Regions from separate parts of the Homo sapiens genome. Here region 1 is linked to region 2. Evidence: fine-mapped expression QTL. A gene starts in region 2. The other region holds a variant in brackets. All regions are shown on one strand. Distances are from middle to middle. Region 1 overlaps RIC3 (RIC3 acetylcholine receptor chaperone). Region 2 holds the start of RIC3 (RIC3 acetylcholine receptor chaperone).

Region 1 (8,718 bases), 43 kb before region 2:
CAAGCTACAGCACTCCAACTTGGGCAAAAAAGCAAGCAAGCCTCTGTCTCAAAAAAAATAATAATAACTTTTTTCAATCATATTTGTTATAAATATTTTTCCAGTTTATTCTTGTCTTTTAAACTGTGTGATATTCTCTGATCTGCAGAAGGTAAAAGTTTTATGTATTTAAGCTACACAATCTTTTCCCTTAGAATTTGTGTTGCTTTTAAAAAAATTAACCTTTTTTATTTTGAGATAATTATAGATTCACAGGCAGCATATAAGAAATAATACAAGCCAGGCACAGTGGCATGCACCTGGAGTCCCAGCTACTCAGGAGGCTGAGGTGGGAGGATCGCCTGAGTCCCAGCATGGGCAACATGGTTAAGACTCTATCCCTTTAAAAAATACTACTACTAGTAATACAGAAATCCCATGTACCCTTTATCCAGTTTCTCCCAAAGGCAACATCTAGCAAAACTGTACTACAATATAACAACCAGGATATTAATATTGATATAGTCAGTATACAGAACATTTTCCATCACCACAAGGACCCCTTATGTTGCCCTTTCATGGCACACTCACTCTTCCCTACTCCTATTCCCCTCTTAACTCCTAGCAACAACTAATCAGTCCTCTATTTCTATAATATTGCCACGTCAATTATAAATGGAATCATATAGTATGTAACCTTTGGGAATTAGTTTTTTCCCCCTACTCAGCATAATTCTCTGGAAATTCATCTAGGTTGTTGTATATATAGTTCATTCCTTTTTATTGCTAAGTGTATACCACAGTGTGTATATATATATGTACCACAGTTTATTCACCTCCTAAAAGACATATGGGTTGTTTCCAGTTCTTGGCTATTGAAATTAAGCTGCTATAAATATTCACAAAGACTCATATGCAAAAGTTCATAGCTACTTGAGTCATAAGAGTGCAAAGCTAGGAACAACCCAAATGTTCCTCAACTGGTGAATGGACAAATTATGGTATAAGCATATAACTAAATAATTAGCCCTAGAATAAAGGCTGTTCTGGACCCAAACTAAAAAATGTTAAAGCTTTAAAGGATTCAACTATTTTCTACTAACCTAAATGCTAACCTAATAAATCCAACACTATTTAAAGTACTAAAACAAAATCCAGCACCTAACAATGCAAAATTTGTAATATCCATCATCCAATCAAAACCTACCAGGTATGCAAAAAAAAAAAAAAAAAAAAAAGGGAAATTAGGACCCATTACCAGGAGAAAAATTAGTCAACAGAAACATTCCCAGAAATGGCATGGATGATGAAATTAGCAATTAAAACAGTCAAGAAAGCTATTACAGATATGAATCATACGTTTAAGAGAGTAAAATATGAATAAATGAGACATAAAAAAGACCCAAATGAAACTTCTAGAGATGATAATGTCTGAAATTAAAAAACACTGAATAAGATTAACAGTGGGTTAGATACAGTAGAAGAAGACATCAATAAACCTGAAGACATAGCAAGAAAAACTATTCAAAACTAAGCATGGTAAGAAAAAAAAAAGTGAACAGAACTCACATGACCTGTGGGGCAATATCAAACATATATGCAACTGGAGAGCCAGAAGGAAATAAAAGAGAGACAAAAAGACACAGATCATTAATAAAATAATGGCCAAAAATATAGATCATGGGTCTAAGCTTCCACCTTGAGAAACTAGAGAAAGGCAAATTAAACCAAAAGTACCAGAAAGAAAGAAACACAAGTCAATGAAATAAGAAACAAACAAACAAAAAGAAACCAAATTACAGTTCTCTGAAAAGATCAACAAGGATGATAAACCTCTGGGCAGCTTGATCAGGAAAAGAAACAAATTACCAGGATCAAGAATAGAAGAGGGTGCACCCTACAGATCTTACGTATATTAAATGGATAATTAGACTATATTATGAACAACTTTATACTAACAATAAAGTTGACAATATGGATGAACTATGTAAATTCCTTGAAAGATACAAACTATCAAAAGTTCACTCAAGAAGTGAATGAACGAATAGCACTATATCCATAAAATACATTAAATTCATAGACATCTTCCCACAAATAAAACTCCAGGCCAACTGGGCACAGTGGCTCATGCCTATAATCCCAGCATTTTGGAGGCCAAGACCAGAAGATTGCTTAAGAGCAGGAGTTCAAGACCAGGCATGAGTAGCTGGGCCTACAGGCATGCACCACCACGCCTGGCTAATTTTTTAAATTTAAAAAATTGAAAAATTAAAAAATTAGCCAGGCATGGTAGTGCATGCCTGTAGGCTCAGCTACTGAGGCTGAGGTGGGAGGGTTGCTTGAGCCCAGGAGATCAAACAGTGAGCCATGATCACGTGCCACTGTACTCCAGCCTGGGCAACAGGGCAAGACCCTGAAAAAAAAAAGAAAGAAAGAAAGAAAAAGAAAAAGAAAAAGAGAAAGCAAGCAAGCAAGCAAGCAAGCAAGCAAGCAACTCCAGACCAAGATAATATCACTGGAGAATTCCACATAACTTTTATGGAATAAATAACAGTAACTCTATGAAACTTTTCCAGAAAATAGAAAAAGGAACACATCCCAATGCATTTTATGAGGCCAGGATTACCCTGAAATCAAAACCAAAGAAATTACAGGAAAAGAAAATCACAGACCAATATCCCTCACATATGCAAGACCTATACACTGGAAACTACAACACACTGCTGAGAGAACTTTTAAAAGATCTAAATAAATGGTGAGATATAAGACGTTCATGAACTAGAAGATTCAATATCGTTACAGTATTGATTCTTCCAAATTGATCTAAAGATTCAAAGCAGTACCAATCAAAATCCCATCAGGCTTTTTCATAAAAACTGACAAACTGATTGTAAATTTATCTGAAATTGTGAAGGAAATAGCCAAAATAATCTTGGGAAAAAAAATCTGAACAACTTGAACTACCCAAAATAAAGACTTACTATAAAGACATAGTAATAAGGACCGTGTGCTATTGGTACAAGTAGAGACATACAGATCAATGGAACAGAATAGAGCCCAGAAGAGACAAGCACACGCATGGTCAACTGGTTTGTCAAGCAAATGTCAAGCTAATTAAATGTAACAAAAGAAGCTGAACAATTGGGTATTTGATATGGAAAAAAATAAACCTCAGTCCTGACACCTCAGATCATCTATAAAGGTTAACTCAAAATAGATCACAGGCCTAAATGTAAAAGCTAAAACTGTAGAATTTCTAGAAAACATGGGAATTGGGAAACCTTGGGTTAGCCAAATATTTCTTAAACAGAACATAAAAAATGGGCTGGGCACGGCGGCTCACACCTGTAATCCCAGCACTTTGGGATGCCGAAGTGGGTGGATCACAAGGTCAGGAGATCAAGACCATCCTGGCTAACATGGTGAAACCCCGTCTCTACTAAAAATACAAAAAAATTAGCCAGGCATGGTGGCAGGCGCCTGTAGTCCCAGCTACTAGGGAGGCTGAGGCAGGAGGATGGCATGAACCTGGGAGGTGGAGCTTACAGTGAGCCGAGATGGCACCACTGCACTCCGGCCTGGGTGACAGAGCAAGACTCTGTCTCAAAAAAAAAAAAAAAGTAAATCGTAAAGAAAAAAATGGTTAAGTTGGACTTCATCAAAATTTAAAACTTCTACTCTTTGAAAGATGCTGTTAAGAAAATATAAAGGCAAGCTACAGAAAATATTTGCAAAATACAGAAATGATAAAGAATTTGTACTCGGAATATATACAGAACTCTTGCAACCCAACAAGAACCTAATCAACCCAATTTAAAAATTGGCAAACTACTTGAACAGACACTTCAAAGATATGCAGATGGCAAATAAGCACATGAAAAAATGTTCATCATCATTAGTCACTGGAGAAAGGTAAATTAAAGTCACAATTAAGGTATCATTTTACACTCACTAGAATGGATAAAATTAAAAAGACTGACAAGACAAAGTGTTACCAAGGATGTGGAGGAACTTTAATTGCCATACACCGCTGGTGGGAAGGGAAAAAGTAGACCTACTTAGGAAAGCAGGTTGACAGTTTCTAATAAAGTTAAACAGGTGGCCGGGCGCGGTGGCCCACAGGCCCACACCTATAATCCCAGCACTTTGAGGGGCTGAGGCAGGCAGATCACTTGAGGTCAGGAGTTTGAGACCAGCCTGGCCAACATGGTGAAAC[T/C]CCGTCTCTACTAAAAATACAAAAATTATTCAGGTGTGGTGCCAGGCACCTGTAATCTCAGCTACTTGGGAGGCTGAGGCAGGAGAATCACTTGAACCCACGAGGTAGAGGTTGCAGCGAGCTGAGATTGCTCTGCAAACTCCAGCCTGGGCGACAAAGTGAGACTGTCTTGAAAAACAAAAACAAAGTTAAATATACAATTACCTTAAACCCAAAAATCTCACTCCTAGGTATAGACTCAAAAGAAATACAAATATATGTTCAAACAAAGACTCATATGCAAAAGTTCATAGCTGCTTGAGTCATAAGAGTGCAAAGCTAGGAATAACCCAAACGCTCCTCAACTGGTGAATGGACAAACAAATTATGGTATAAGTATATAACTGACTACTACTCAGCAAGAAAAAAATTTCAGATACACTCAATAACAAACATGAATGTCAAAAGTATTACGCTAAATCAAAGAAGCCAATGAGTATATGCAGTATGATCACTTACATAGAAAAGGCAAAACTAAAGGCACAGAAAGCACTTCAGTTGTTTCCAGGGGCAGGAGAAGGGCATTAGCTACAAAGGGGGAGCTTTCTGGAGTAATGGAAATGTTCTTTATCAAAATTACGGTGTGATTACACAAACTCTATATATTTGTCAAAACTCATCCAACCGTACATTTAAAACTGGTTAATATTACTGTTTATATATTATACCTCAATAATGAAGCTGATTTTTTAAAAATCTGTAACATCTCTTTTCTGGGCTGACAGCTAACAAAAAAATGAGAAGACACTGTTTACCTTCCCAGTCCTCCATGTAAGGGGCCTCCTCAGCTTCTTTCTCTGGAGAAAATCTGTCAATGAATTTTCCTTCTTTCATGACCCTGGTGATTTCTCGGAGCTGATGTAGCAACCGTTTCTCTTGGTCAGAAGTCACAGTCTGTGCTCTGCTTAGAAATATCAGACAATCCAACCATTTAGTGGTAAATACTCCTAGGCAATGGACGTAAACATCACTATGGTCTGTCTGGGTACTGGAATAGAAAGTGCAATTGCAGCAGATAATTATTCTAGGAATTGATCCTCCAACTGCATAGCTGGGAACTAGAGATGTTAGTTCAATGCTTTGATTTTATAAATGGGAAAATTAAAGCCCAGAATAGATCAAGTGATTGCCCAAGGTCCCGAAATTAGTTAATGTCAATACTAGGACCAGACCCCAGATGTCTCAGCTTTTAGTTCAGTGTTTTTTCAGGGTATGTCAATGCCCTGATTCTCTAATCGCCTAACAATTTCACTGCTACTCACATTACTCCATTTACTACAAGCCACTTTTCTCTGAAGCAAGGTCATCAAAGGAAAACGTTCTGGGCCATTAGCATCAACCGGGGAAAATTTATGCTACTAGAATCACCAGGCTTAATTTACGTGTGCAGGTATAAGGATATATTCTAAAATTTCAGAGGTGGGTGATTTTGAAAATTCAATCATCTAGACTAGAGAAATTGAGGAAACTGGGGTCCACAGAGGAGAAATATTGTTTATATATTCATACTGCCACTTAATGAAGCACTATAACTAAAACCACCCAGGCTTCTGATTGCATTCTGCGCAATTCTTGAAGCACAGTGCTCAAGTTCCACATTTTGGAAAACCTGGTTTGAATCCCAACTTACTTGTGTGGTTCTGGCAAATATCTGCAAAAATAACATGAGACTCAAGGATAACAGTTTGATTGTTTTCTTCTAGAGGAAAGCACTGCATCACACTGACAGGCAAACAAGGTCCTACTTAGAAGACTGATAACTATCTGCTTTGAGACCAGTTTTATCTAGCAGCAGGATTTAATGGAGGCTACTTATTCTCTTCTTAAAACCCAGACACAAGTTAATACAACACTTACAAAGGAAAAATGATGTACTATGTACTAGCCTGTGGAGATGGTCGTCTATTTTTCTAACAGCCAGTTCTGAGCCTGCATTCATTTCTCTGCTCAGCCTAACTTTAGCCTTAATGACTAATAAGGAAAATGAAAAGAGTATTTCTCCTTTCAACATGAAGATAGTAACTGAGGAAAATGAACATTACCAGAGACCTCAGTGAAAGGAAAATGGAAAACACCACGAGCTCCACTTCTTCCACACCAAGCAGCTTCAAAGCCATGAACTACTAAAGATGCCTGTCTGTTCCACATTCAGCTAAAATCCTATACTTACAGGGCCTCTGATAGCTCTATTCTTCCCATCAGTACAGGAGTCCTGACTCTCCACAACTGCTCGTGTGTCCCACATAACCCCTATTTCTTACTGTTAAAACAACCCACTTTGTGTGAGGCTTCTGGGGCAGACTAGAAGAGCTTACCTGCTTATCACAAACTCTTGTCTCTTCAGGCGGCACATGTTACTTTTCCAGACTGTACGCAGGGCATTCTGATCTTCAATGAATGAAACAGTCTTAATTCTGTTTCCTAAGTCATGGGAAATCAGAAGCCCTTATCCTAAAAGAGGATGGGTAGACTACAGGAAGCAGGAACAGACAAGAGCTTTCCCAGAGAACTCCAAACCAAAGCATCCTCATTTCACTCTTAACAAGTATACTTTTATTGTCCATATCATGCATTATGCATTAATCATGGTCTACCTTATGACATCTTCTGAATTTATTGCAATGAATATTTTCATGGATTCCTTATCATCTCAACTTGGTTTGATACTCCTAGAGGGCAGTAATAATTAAGTTGACAACAGTATAGACACAATGCCATGATCACTGTTAAGAGCTCAATAATTACGTGTTAGTTTGATTGATCCCCATTTCCTCACCATCCATTATTTTCTTCCACCTCCCTGAATTCTGGATTCCGTTCTATCATTTTATGAAAAGTTGCAAAAACTTTTTTTTTTTTTTTTTTTTTTTTGAGATGGAGTCTCGCTGTCGCCCAGGCTGGAGTGCAGTGGCGCCACCTCAGCTCACTGCAAGCTCCGCCTCCCGGGTTCACGCCATTCTCCTGCCTCAGCCTCCCGCATAGCTGGGACTACAGGCGCCAGCCACCTCGCCTGGCTAATTTTTTGTATTTTTAGTAGAGACGGGGTTTCACCGTGTTAGCCAGGATGGTCTCAATCTCCTGACCTCGTGATCCGCCCGCCTCGGCCTCCCAAAGTGCTGGGATTACAGGCGTGAGCCACAGCGCCCGGCCAAAAACTTTTACTCCTAAGTGATTTTTCACTTTACTAAGTCCAAGGGTCTTTTTCTCACATTTCATTCTTCTTGACTTCTCTATACCATAGACCATCCTCTGCTTGAAACCTCCTCCTCCCTTAGCTATTGAGACATTTGTATTCTCCCACTTCTTTAAACATTCCTTTTATCTATGATCCTGACTCACTTTTTTCCACCCACCTCCCAAAACAATTTTCCCAAGGCTCAATCCTAGGACTCTCATTTCTCCATTCTTATAATCATGCCCTCAGGAAGTTGACCCAGTATTACAGATTAGACCATCACCTCTATAGAAAAGATGTCCTAATGCTACTATTAATCTTGACTTTCCACACAAATTCCTGTCTCACAACTCCAGTTATTTCCTGGGCATTTCCACTTGGAGGCCTTGGAACTATGTTAAAGTTAACCTTAAATTCACCTCTTGAAACCAGGTCCCAGTTGGCTCAGGATCGTGAGCAACTGCATGAACAGGAAGACCAGAAGAGGCTGAGTATGGAAGATTCTAAGATGATAGAAAAATAAAAGGTCACAGTTGGGAAACACCCTCACCAGAATTTTGAATTCTATAAGCCCAGCAGAATCATCAAGTTCCAAATGCAAGAGTTAAGTACAGAGAATTAAATAGATGTTAATACCATTCATGGTTAGAACAGAACTCAGACCAGTAAAAGATTTCAGGATACTGCAGCAGAGTCTGATATGCCTCAAAGATTTGGTGATCTCACCTTTCTCCATGGAGATTTTCTCCATCTCTCACTCCCAGCCAATGACTTCCAAACCTGAGCCCTTTGCTCTGACCTCAAGAACCAAATTTCCTATTGCTGTTTCATATTATACATGGATGTTCTGATGGCATCTCAGACACACTCAGTGCTGAACTTATGATCCCAACTCCAAAGCCTTATGTACTTTCCCTTCTTTTGTATTTTATCTTAGTTAATGCCATAATCTTCCTTCCAGTTTGGCTGTAAATCTCCAATGCATCTTTATTTATTTATTCTTCTCCATTACTCTTATCTGGTTAGTAGTTTTCTTTTGGGGAACCAACTCCTCTTCCATTCATAGTGCAAAGATTAACGTGAGCCATCCATCCCCTACCTCTCCTTCAAGGGTGGCCATGTGACCCACTACTAATTATCACATTCCATCCCCTTGACTGCAGGGATTGATTCAGGGATAGATATAGGACCCAAGTTGGGCCAACTGTACTTTTGGACCTTGAACACAGTGAAGCCTGAACTGAATACTTTTGACATTAAATTCATCCAGGCAACAGTCCATGAGGAGACTTTCCCTTTGTTCCTGCTC
Region 2 (8,718 bases):
TGTGCACCAGAGTGAGACCCTGTCTCTCTCAAAAAAAAAAAAAAAAAAAAAAAAAAGACAAGTAATCTGACTTTTAAAGAGGGTTAAAAGGACCTGAATAGACATTTCTCCAAAACAAGATATACAAATAGACAAAGAGTGAATAAACACACAAAAAATGCTCAATGTCATTAGTCATCAGGGAAATGCAAATAAAATCACAATGAGATACCATTTCATTCCTACTAGGATGGCTATCATCAAGAAGACAGATAACAAACAAGTATTGACAAGAAACCAGAAGCCCTCTTACACTGCTGGTGGTCATGTAAAATGGTACAGCTGCTTTGGAAAATGGTCTGGCAGTTCCTCAAAAGGTTAAACATGTAATAACCATACAACCTAGAAATTCCACGCTTAGTTCCAGCCACACTGGAATGCTCACATTTTCCAAATGTATACACTCAAGAGAAATGAAAACATTAAGTCTACACAAAAATTTGTACACAGATATCAGTAGCAACATTATTCATAATAGCTAAAAGGCAAAAATTCAATGTCCATCAATTGATTAATGAATAAATGAAATGTGGTATATCCACACAATGAAATATTATTCAGCCATAAAAAAAGTACTGCTACATGCTACAACATGGATGAACCTTGAAAACATTATGCTAGTTAAAAGACGTCAGTCACAAAAGATCAGATATTATATGATTTCATTTATACCAAATGTCCAGAACAGGCAAATCTATAGAGACATAAAGTAGATGAGTGGTTGCCTAGGGCTGGAGGTGGGCTGGGGGATTTGTGGAGTAATAGCTAAAAAGTACAGGGTTTCTTTGGGGGCTGAAGAAATATTCTAAAATTGGTTGTAGTGATGGTTGTACAACTCTGAATATGCTGAAACCCAATAAATTGTACACTTTAAGTGGGTGAATTGTATGATATATAAATTAGATCTCAAGAAAGCTGTTATCAAAAAAAAAAAAGACTTCCCTCCTCTATGTTCTATGAAACCTGTTTTTTGGGGTTTTTTTTTTGTTTTGTTTTGTTTTTTTTTTTGGCAGAGTCTCACTGTGTTGCCCAGGCTGCAGTGCAGTTACACAATCACACCTCACTGTAGCCTTGACCTCCAAACTTCAAACGATCCTCCCACCTCAGCCTACAGAGTAGCTGGGGCTACAGGTGCACACCACCATGCCCAGCTAATTGAAAAAAAACAAACTTATTTTGTAGAGATGGGGGTCTTGTTATGTGGCCCAAGCTGGTCTCGAACTCCCAGGCTCAAGCAATCCTTCCACCACAGCCTTTCAAAATGCTGGGATTACAGGCATGAGCTGTCACACCTGGTTTATGAAACCCTTCTTAAGTCCCAATAACACTGACCATTGCATACATGTCTCCATTGTTCCCTGCGCAGACTTGAGTAACTGTGACTGACACTCTTGCATTTATCTGCTAACATGTCTGTTTTGCATTTATCTGTTGACATGTCTACTTTCCTTTACTAAACTGTGGCCGCCTCAAAGCATGGAGTTCGCTCATTTTTTCTTGGAATACATAGTGTCTATACACTATGTGCACAGTATGTGATATGGTACATCATAAATATTTGTTAAAAGACTATCTTAAAGGCTTTCATGTGGAAAGGGAACTGTGCTTGTTTCATGCACATCAATGGGCAAAAATGGAAGACATAACAACATGTATTTTTAAGAATTTTCAAATACTCAGGGTTATTCCTTTCTTCAAAGCAGGGATTTCTGGGTTCTGAGAATTCTCTGAATTGATACTGAAATTCTGAGTACAATAAGAGTATGTACCTTTTTCTAGAGAGAACATACAGTTTTAGGCTGAGTGCAGTTGCTCAAGCCTGTAATCCCAGCACTTTGGAAGGCTGAGGCAGAAGGATCACTTGAACCCACGAGTTCGACACCAGCCTGGACAATACAATGAGACCCCCATCTCAACCAAAAACAAAAAAAATTTTTTTTAATTAGCCAGGCATGGTGGCATGTGCCTGTAGTCCCAGTTACTTGGGAGGCTGAGGTGGGAGGATCAGTTGAGCCCTAGAAGTAGAGGCTGCAGTGAGCTGTGATCATGACTCTGCACTCCAGCCTGGGTGACAGAGTGAGACCCAGGGAAAGGGAAAGAGAAAGGGAAAGGGGGCCAGGAAGAGAGGAAAGGAGGGAGGGAGGGACAGAGGGAGGAAGGAGAGAGAAAGAAAGAAAATACATAGCTTTTATAAGATTCTCAATGGTGTATGTAACCCCAAAATGGTTAAGATTTTTTGCTGCAAGTTTCAGTTACTGGAATGTACCATTCAAGGTAAGTTTTTTCCTAGGTTATACTACTTCAGTAGCTTCTCCTTGTCAAAAACAGAATTTACAGTATTGGTAGCTTAATAATCTTAAAGTATTTATTGACTGCCCATTATATGCCAGGTACTGAAGAAACAGTGGTAAACAAGACAAAGTCCCTACCCTTGCAAACTTACATTCTAGAAGGTGAAGACAAAAAAACAAACAAGTAAACACTTAAGAATATTCCATATCATATAGTGATGCCTATCATGAAGAATATAAAACATGATAAAATAGAGAATGATGGGAGAAAAGAGTTATTTTAGTTAGTGTCATCAGGGGAAGTCTCTCTGAGGAGGTTTCATTTGAGCAGAAATTTGAATGATGAGAAGGGCACTGAGGGAAAAGCACAGCACTTCAGGAATAAAGAGAACTGAAGGTACAAAGATCCTAACATGAGAACACTGAATACCAACACTTGAGTTCTCAAGGGAACAACCCATGTCTAATCTCCACTCTACATTTTCTACAACGTTCAGAAGAGTGTCTCCCACTCACAGTCAATAGTACTTGTTCAAGATAATTCACCATAATGGAAAGTAAAAAAAAAAAAAAAAAAGTTTTCGAAGAATCTTCACTGTTCAGGATCATCATGAATTGACTCTTCTTCAAAGTAGACAATATCATTAGACAAAGCAGGTAAAAATCTTTGGGATTATTGCAATAAGACAGAAAGGAAAAAAAAAGAACAAATACGCAAAGATGTTTTAGAAGTCCGTCCCAAGTGGATAGTCTTACAAGCATAAAGATTATCAGGCAAATTCTGTAAACAGAATTATGTGTTCAACCTGCCCTCCACCCCTAAAGCTTGGTGCTTTGCATTTATAGTGTGTATGATGCTCAAGAGAATGGAACTACAGTCAATGTGCATAAAGCAGACGGAAGTGGATTACAGTTCAAAAGGAGCTGTCCAGCAATCAACAGTTTAAACATTACTGGAAGTGTTCAGACACCGTAAAATCATGTCTCAAAGATATTACAAGGATAATTTACAGGAGAAAGTTACCAGTAGAACTTCATGACCTATAGAAAACTGTTCTGGTTCCTTCTCCCAGCCTTCAGCACCGTGCCTTTACACTCATTCTGTAAAAGGCCCCAGTGCAGCTAAGAGGATGAATTTTTAAACACCACATACATCATGCCAACAACGAAGAATTAACAGATAAATACTGTTTCAATAAGGGGAACGTAATAATTTGTTCATAACCACCTCAGTAACTGAAACTGGGGTTATTAAAATCTTCAAGATATATTTTTAAAGGCACAAGAAGAGCCTGAAGCAGTGAGCGCCCAGCACCAAGTTGAAAAAACATAACGACTTAAGGTTTGCTGTACCAATTCCATTTGCCTTGATTTCGTACCAAGCGGCGCGTCAGAAAGTACACGGAAAACCTAAAGAGGGAAACCCAACTGGGAACCCTTGACTCAAAGCACGTGAACAAATGGTGACGAGATGAGTTAAGCCAGCGGGGTAAGAGAGAAGGGACTGCGCCTAAACGGGAGTACGCAAGGCCACCTAGAGGATGCACAGACCTGCATGCATACGTTCCTGACCCTTCCAGCAGCAGAACCATCTGGGCCGCCACCCGCTGATAACAACGGAACCGTGGGCATTGGCCCTTCAACGCCGTCTCGCCCGCCCTCTCCAGTCAGTTTGGTGGATATTTCGGTGAAGGCTGCAGACTCTCAGAGTCACCCCTCCCTCAAGCAGCGTTCTCCGTACTCTTCGGCGCCGGGAAGCTCAGAGGGAGCTGGCCTGCTCTTACCTTCAGGTGTCGGCGGCGGCTCCTGCCGCTTCCCGCGGGACAGGAAGGCCTTGGGCAGCAGCAGCGACAGAGCCAGGACAAGCCCAGAAGCCAGAGCGACTCTCTGCACTGTGGAGTACGCCATGACTGCTCACGGTGGTCGCAGGTGCAGACGCCAGCCGGAACCGGAACCGGAACCGGAGCACGGGCTGCCGCTCCCGACCGAACCGCGGGCGGCGCGGACGGCGTCGCGCGAGGGACAAGGTGCGCGAGGCGCACGCATCTTCACCTCCACTGTCGGGAGTTGACCTGCTCCTCCCGCGTGGTTACCCGTCGCTGTAAATGGTACCCTCGCCTTCCCGTTCATACTAACTAAAAACTCCTCCCTCACTCCCCATGTTCATCTTTTACTGAGTCCTGTGCATTCTACCGCCTACACATCCGGCGGTCGTGCCCGGATCTCTATCCCCACTTACCACCACTGCCCCCCACCCACCCGTAGATCACAACATCCAGTTTCTCCTCATCTCCATGATCTCGCTGTCTTCCAGCTTCCACTCATGCCCCTCGCATTCATTATCCGTCTGCAGCCACAGGTGATAATGCTAAAACACAAGACTAATTCTCTTTCTCTCCAGCTTAAACCTTTTAACTCTCCATTATCTTCAGAACAATAGTTAAACTCCTTTCTATAACCTCAACGCCCTGCATGATCTGGTCTTACCAATGCTCCTTCCAAACTGGATGATTTGCTATTTCTTTAGCATATTGCTTGTCTTCAGGGAAGCTTTGCTTGTCCTGTTCCCACTGCCTGGAAAATTCCTGACACCATCTCCAGTTGTCAAAAACTTCTCTGAAGAACAGCTTAAAAACACTGCTCTCTCGAAACGTTTTCAGTCAGCCTCTCCTTTCTCTACAATCCCACCGTTCTTTGTTACTCTCTTCATTCGTTCATTTAACATTATTTTAGTTTTTACTATGTATTAGACCCTCAACTTGGCACTACAGGGTCTGATGAATAAAATGGATTCCCTTTGTAGGACAGATAATTATCCAAACAAAAAAAATGCAGGAAATATTCTGGATCCCCGAGCAGTCTTCTCAACTGGTACGAGGAAAAGTCAAGAAAAGCCCCTTTGAGAAGGTGAAATTGAGTTAGCTGTTGAAAAATGAGTAACTTATAGGCAGACAGGTGGGAGGGGTTAGAAAGGTATTCCGGAAAAAGGAGGCCAAAAAAATAAAGGCAAATCTGGAAGCTTCCTGGTGTGTTCAGAAAGCTATTGGTAATTCATTTTGGCAGGGCCATAGAGTAGTGACAGGACACGAAGTGCACAAATATAAGCAGGAGCTACATTGTGAAAAGCTTAGGTAGAACTTCCAGTTAAACATGACAGATGTAACATATGCATTTATCTTTGCTTTCCTGGGACAGTGCCCAAAAAGGAAAATAAAGAAATAAAGTATATAAACTACAAGACTAAATGCAATGATAGAAAACATGACAGCAGATGAGAAATGTCAATTTTGTAAGACGCACACAACACTGTCCAATAGACACATAATACCAGCCACATATGTAATTTAAATTTTTCCAGTAGCCACATTTAAAAAGTAAAAATAAGTAAAATTTATTTTAATAATATTTTAAACCAAGATAGCAAAAATATTTCAAATTTTATCAGCACGATAGTGTGGCTCGTTGGCGCCCACAGTAGACAGTGCAGGTGTAGAGCATAAAAAGTTAAATGCCTGTGGACTGAAAGCCTGTAAGGAGTGAACTAATTTGCCCCTCAGAACCCATGCTCTTAAGAATTGGAGGTACTGGGTTCCTTTAAAGCCAAGGGTGCAGAGTGGGTCTGAATGAAGGATTGGCTGGAAATCTGATTAAAAAGCAGTTGAGACTGGGCACAGTGGCTCACACCTATAATCCCAGGGCTTTGGGAGGCCAAGGCTGGAGGATGGCTTGAGGCCAAGAGTTCAAGGCCAGCCTGGGCAACATAGGGAGAGCCCTAATCTCTACCAAAAAAATGTAAAAAATTAACCAGGCATGGTGGTGTGCACCTGTAGTCCCAACTACTCAGGAAGCTGAGGTGGGAAGATCACTTGAGCCCAAGAGTTTGAGGCTGCAGTGAGCTATGATTGTGTGAAACCACAATTAATTATGATATATAAGATGATAATAATGCCTGAATGAAGCCAGTAGGGGCACCCACTCCAGCCAGGGTGACAGAGTGAGACCCTGTCTCTAAAAAAAAATTGTTTGATTTTTTTAAAGCAATGGATATCTTCTGAATCTCTTTCCTTGATTCATGCAGCCAGATGGGTGCCACTGCTGGCTTCACTCGGGCATTATTATCATTGATGTTATTAACATCACTAAAAGTTAGAGTACTAATTATGTTTTAGGCATCTTACATATCATAATTATTCCTCCCAATAACTTCAAGAGGTAAGCAATATTATTATATACCCATTTCACAGGTAAGAAAATGGAGCCCCAGAAAACATAATTTACTTGCCAACAATTACACAGTATAAACTGGATGCTATGATTTGAACACAGGCATGCTTACTCAAGAATTTGCCCTCTTAGCTACCAGGTTTACTGTCTGGGGAGGTTTAGTCAGAAAACCTCTGGACTCCTGGACTATAGATGCAGCTTAGGGAGGAGGTGACTAATGGGATGTGGTCTCTAAGAAATACAGAGGGGTCTGGAATGACCACACTCCCCCCCGCCCTCCGCCACCAAATTCTAGCTTGGGTAAATGGTAGACATTAATTCTATATAACATGATTTTAAGAATAGAAGAATCAGGTTTGTGAGAAAGATGAAGAGTTCAGATTTTGACTAGCTGAATTTGAAGTTCCATGAAATATCCAAGTAGAAATATCCAGTTGGATATATGGGCCTGGAGCTCAGAAGAGATGTTTGGGCTAGAAACAATAGGAAATCATCAGCCCATCTATAGTAAATGAAGTCTAGGAGAAGATGGCATTAGTGAGAGTGCTCATGTGAAGTTGTAAGAAGCCACAATGGAAACCTAGGTCACAACATTATGTTGAAGTTCCCATGTATGAGGACAGAAATGAGGTGGGAAATAGTGATCCAAGTGTTAAAATCTTTAATGAATGTGGAGTTACTACAAGGTTGGAAGGTGACAGGAACAGAAGAAGTAATGGGCAGCCAGATGACATGCTCTTCTAAGGAGCTGTGTTTTTTTTTAATTGTTTAAAAATTTTTATTTATTTATTTATTTATTTATTTATTTTTGAGATGGAGTCTTGCTCTGTTGCCCAGGCTGGAGTGCAGTGGTGCAATCTCGGCTCACTACAAGCTCCGCCTCCTGGCTTCACGCCATTCTCCTGCCTCAGCCTCCCAAGTAGCAGGGACCACAGGTGCCCGCCACCACGCCCGGCTAATTTTTTTGTTGTATTTTTAGTAGAGATGGGGTTTCACTATGTTAGCCAGGATGGTCTCGATCCTTGTTATGCACCCACCTCAGCCTCCCAAAGTGCTGGGATTACAGGCATGAGCCACAGCGCCTGGCCAGGAGCTATGGTTTTTAAAGGAAGAAGAGGAAGAAGCAATTTGGAAGCAGCAAGGGGAAACAAGTTGGGCATCTATTCTATTCCCAGGCTTTAAGCTGTGGGAAGAAAAATAGCTCTTACTTTGGGAGATCTGCAAGGGAAACAGAACCCAGAGGCAACAGCCTAGTTTTCATTAGAGGAAGACAGGCCGGGCGCAGTGGCTTATGTCTGTAATCCCAGCACTTTGGGAGGCCAAGGGGGGCGGATCACGAGGTCAAGAAATCAAGACCATCCTGGCCAACATGCTGAAACCCACCTCTACTAAAAATACAAAAATTAGCTGGGCGTGATGACATGCGCCTGTAATCCCAGCTACTTGGGAGGCTGAGGCAGGAGAATCGCTTGAACCCAGGAGGCAGAGGTCGCAGTGAGCTGAGATCGCGCCACTGCACTCCAGCCTGGTGACAGAGTGAGACTCCATCTCAAAATAAAAAAAAAAGAAAAAAGAAGAAGAAAGTTAAGAGAAACTTCAAAGAAGTCAAGGATATAGGAGTTTTTCTGATGATAGCTCTTGACTCTATACAGCACGGTAAGTGGAAGCTTTGGAAGTCAGAAATGGAGTCAAAGTAAAATATGAAGTGAGCAGGATGGAGATGAGGGGCAGTGTGCAAATTGATGACCTTGGGGGCTTGGAATTTAGATGGTGGCCAAGGTAAATGGGCAGAGATCGTGATCTCATTAGTCCTAGAAGTGGCCTAGAGAAAGGTGAAAACACAGTTATAGTACAGAGTATTTGGCTTGGAACATATTCATTGTTGCAGTCAGTTGGGATGTGCACCTGGAAGACATGGAAGCCTCCTTAAGGCGACAGAGCTGGTAGGCAGCTCATGGAGCTGGGGCAGCTTGGAGTGGGACCTGGGATGGCTGCTCTCTCTGGTGGCTGGTGGTATAACATCAGAGCTGGGAGTGCACTAAAATTGAAGATCTTAAGGGTTTAGGTTTTCCAATAAAGTATTGGTAGGGGGCTGGGCGTGGTGGCTTAGGCCTATAATCCTAGCACTTTGGGAGGCCTAGGTGGGTGGATCACCTGAGGTCAG

The links.
Region 1: its variant is fine-mapped to the expression of RIC3 in blood mononuclear cells (TOPMed, PIP above 0.99). The same link has a PIP of 0.9 or more in T cells, esophagus mucosa, esophagus muscle, gastroesophageal junction, left ventricle and sun-exposed skin.

Annotation. Positions count from the first base shown.
Region 1 is chr11:8,121,670-8,130,387 of GRCh38, forward strand. RIC3 (RIC3 acetylcholine receptor chaperone) reads right to left here. Exons shown (of 6, transcript NM_001206671.4): 5 at 4,990-5,138. Among named protein-coding and RNA genes, the nearest start is that of RIC3, 43 kb to the right of the region's middle. The variant T/C (reference allele first, on the strand shown) is at 4,196.
Region 2 is chr11:8,164,752-8,173,469 of GRCh38, forward strand. RIC3 (RIC3 acetylcholine receptor chaperone) reads right to left here and starts at 4,274. Exons shown (of 6, transcript NM_001206671.4): 1 at 4,115-4,274. The coding sequence starts at 4,238. It overlaps RIC3-DT (RIC3 divergent transcript), which reads left to right and starts at 4,319. Exons shown (of 5, transcript NR_187234.1): 1 at 4,319-4,438; 2 at 5,134-5,237.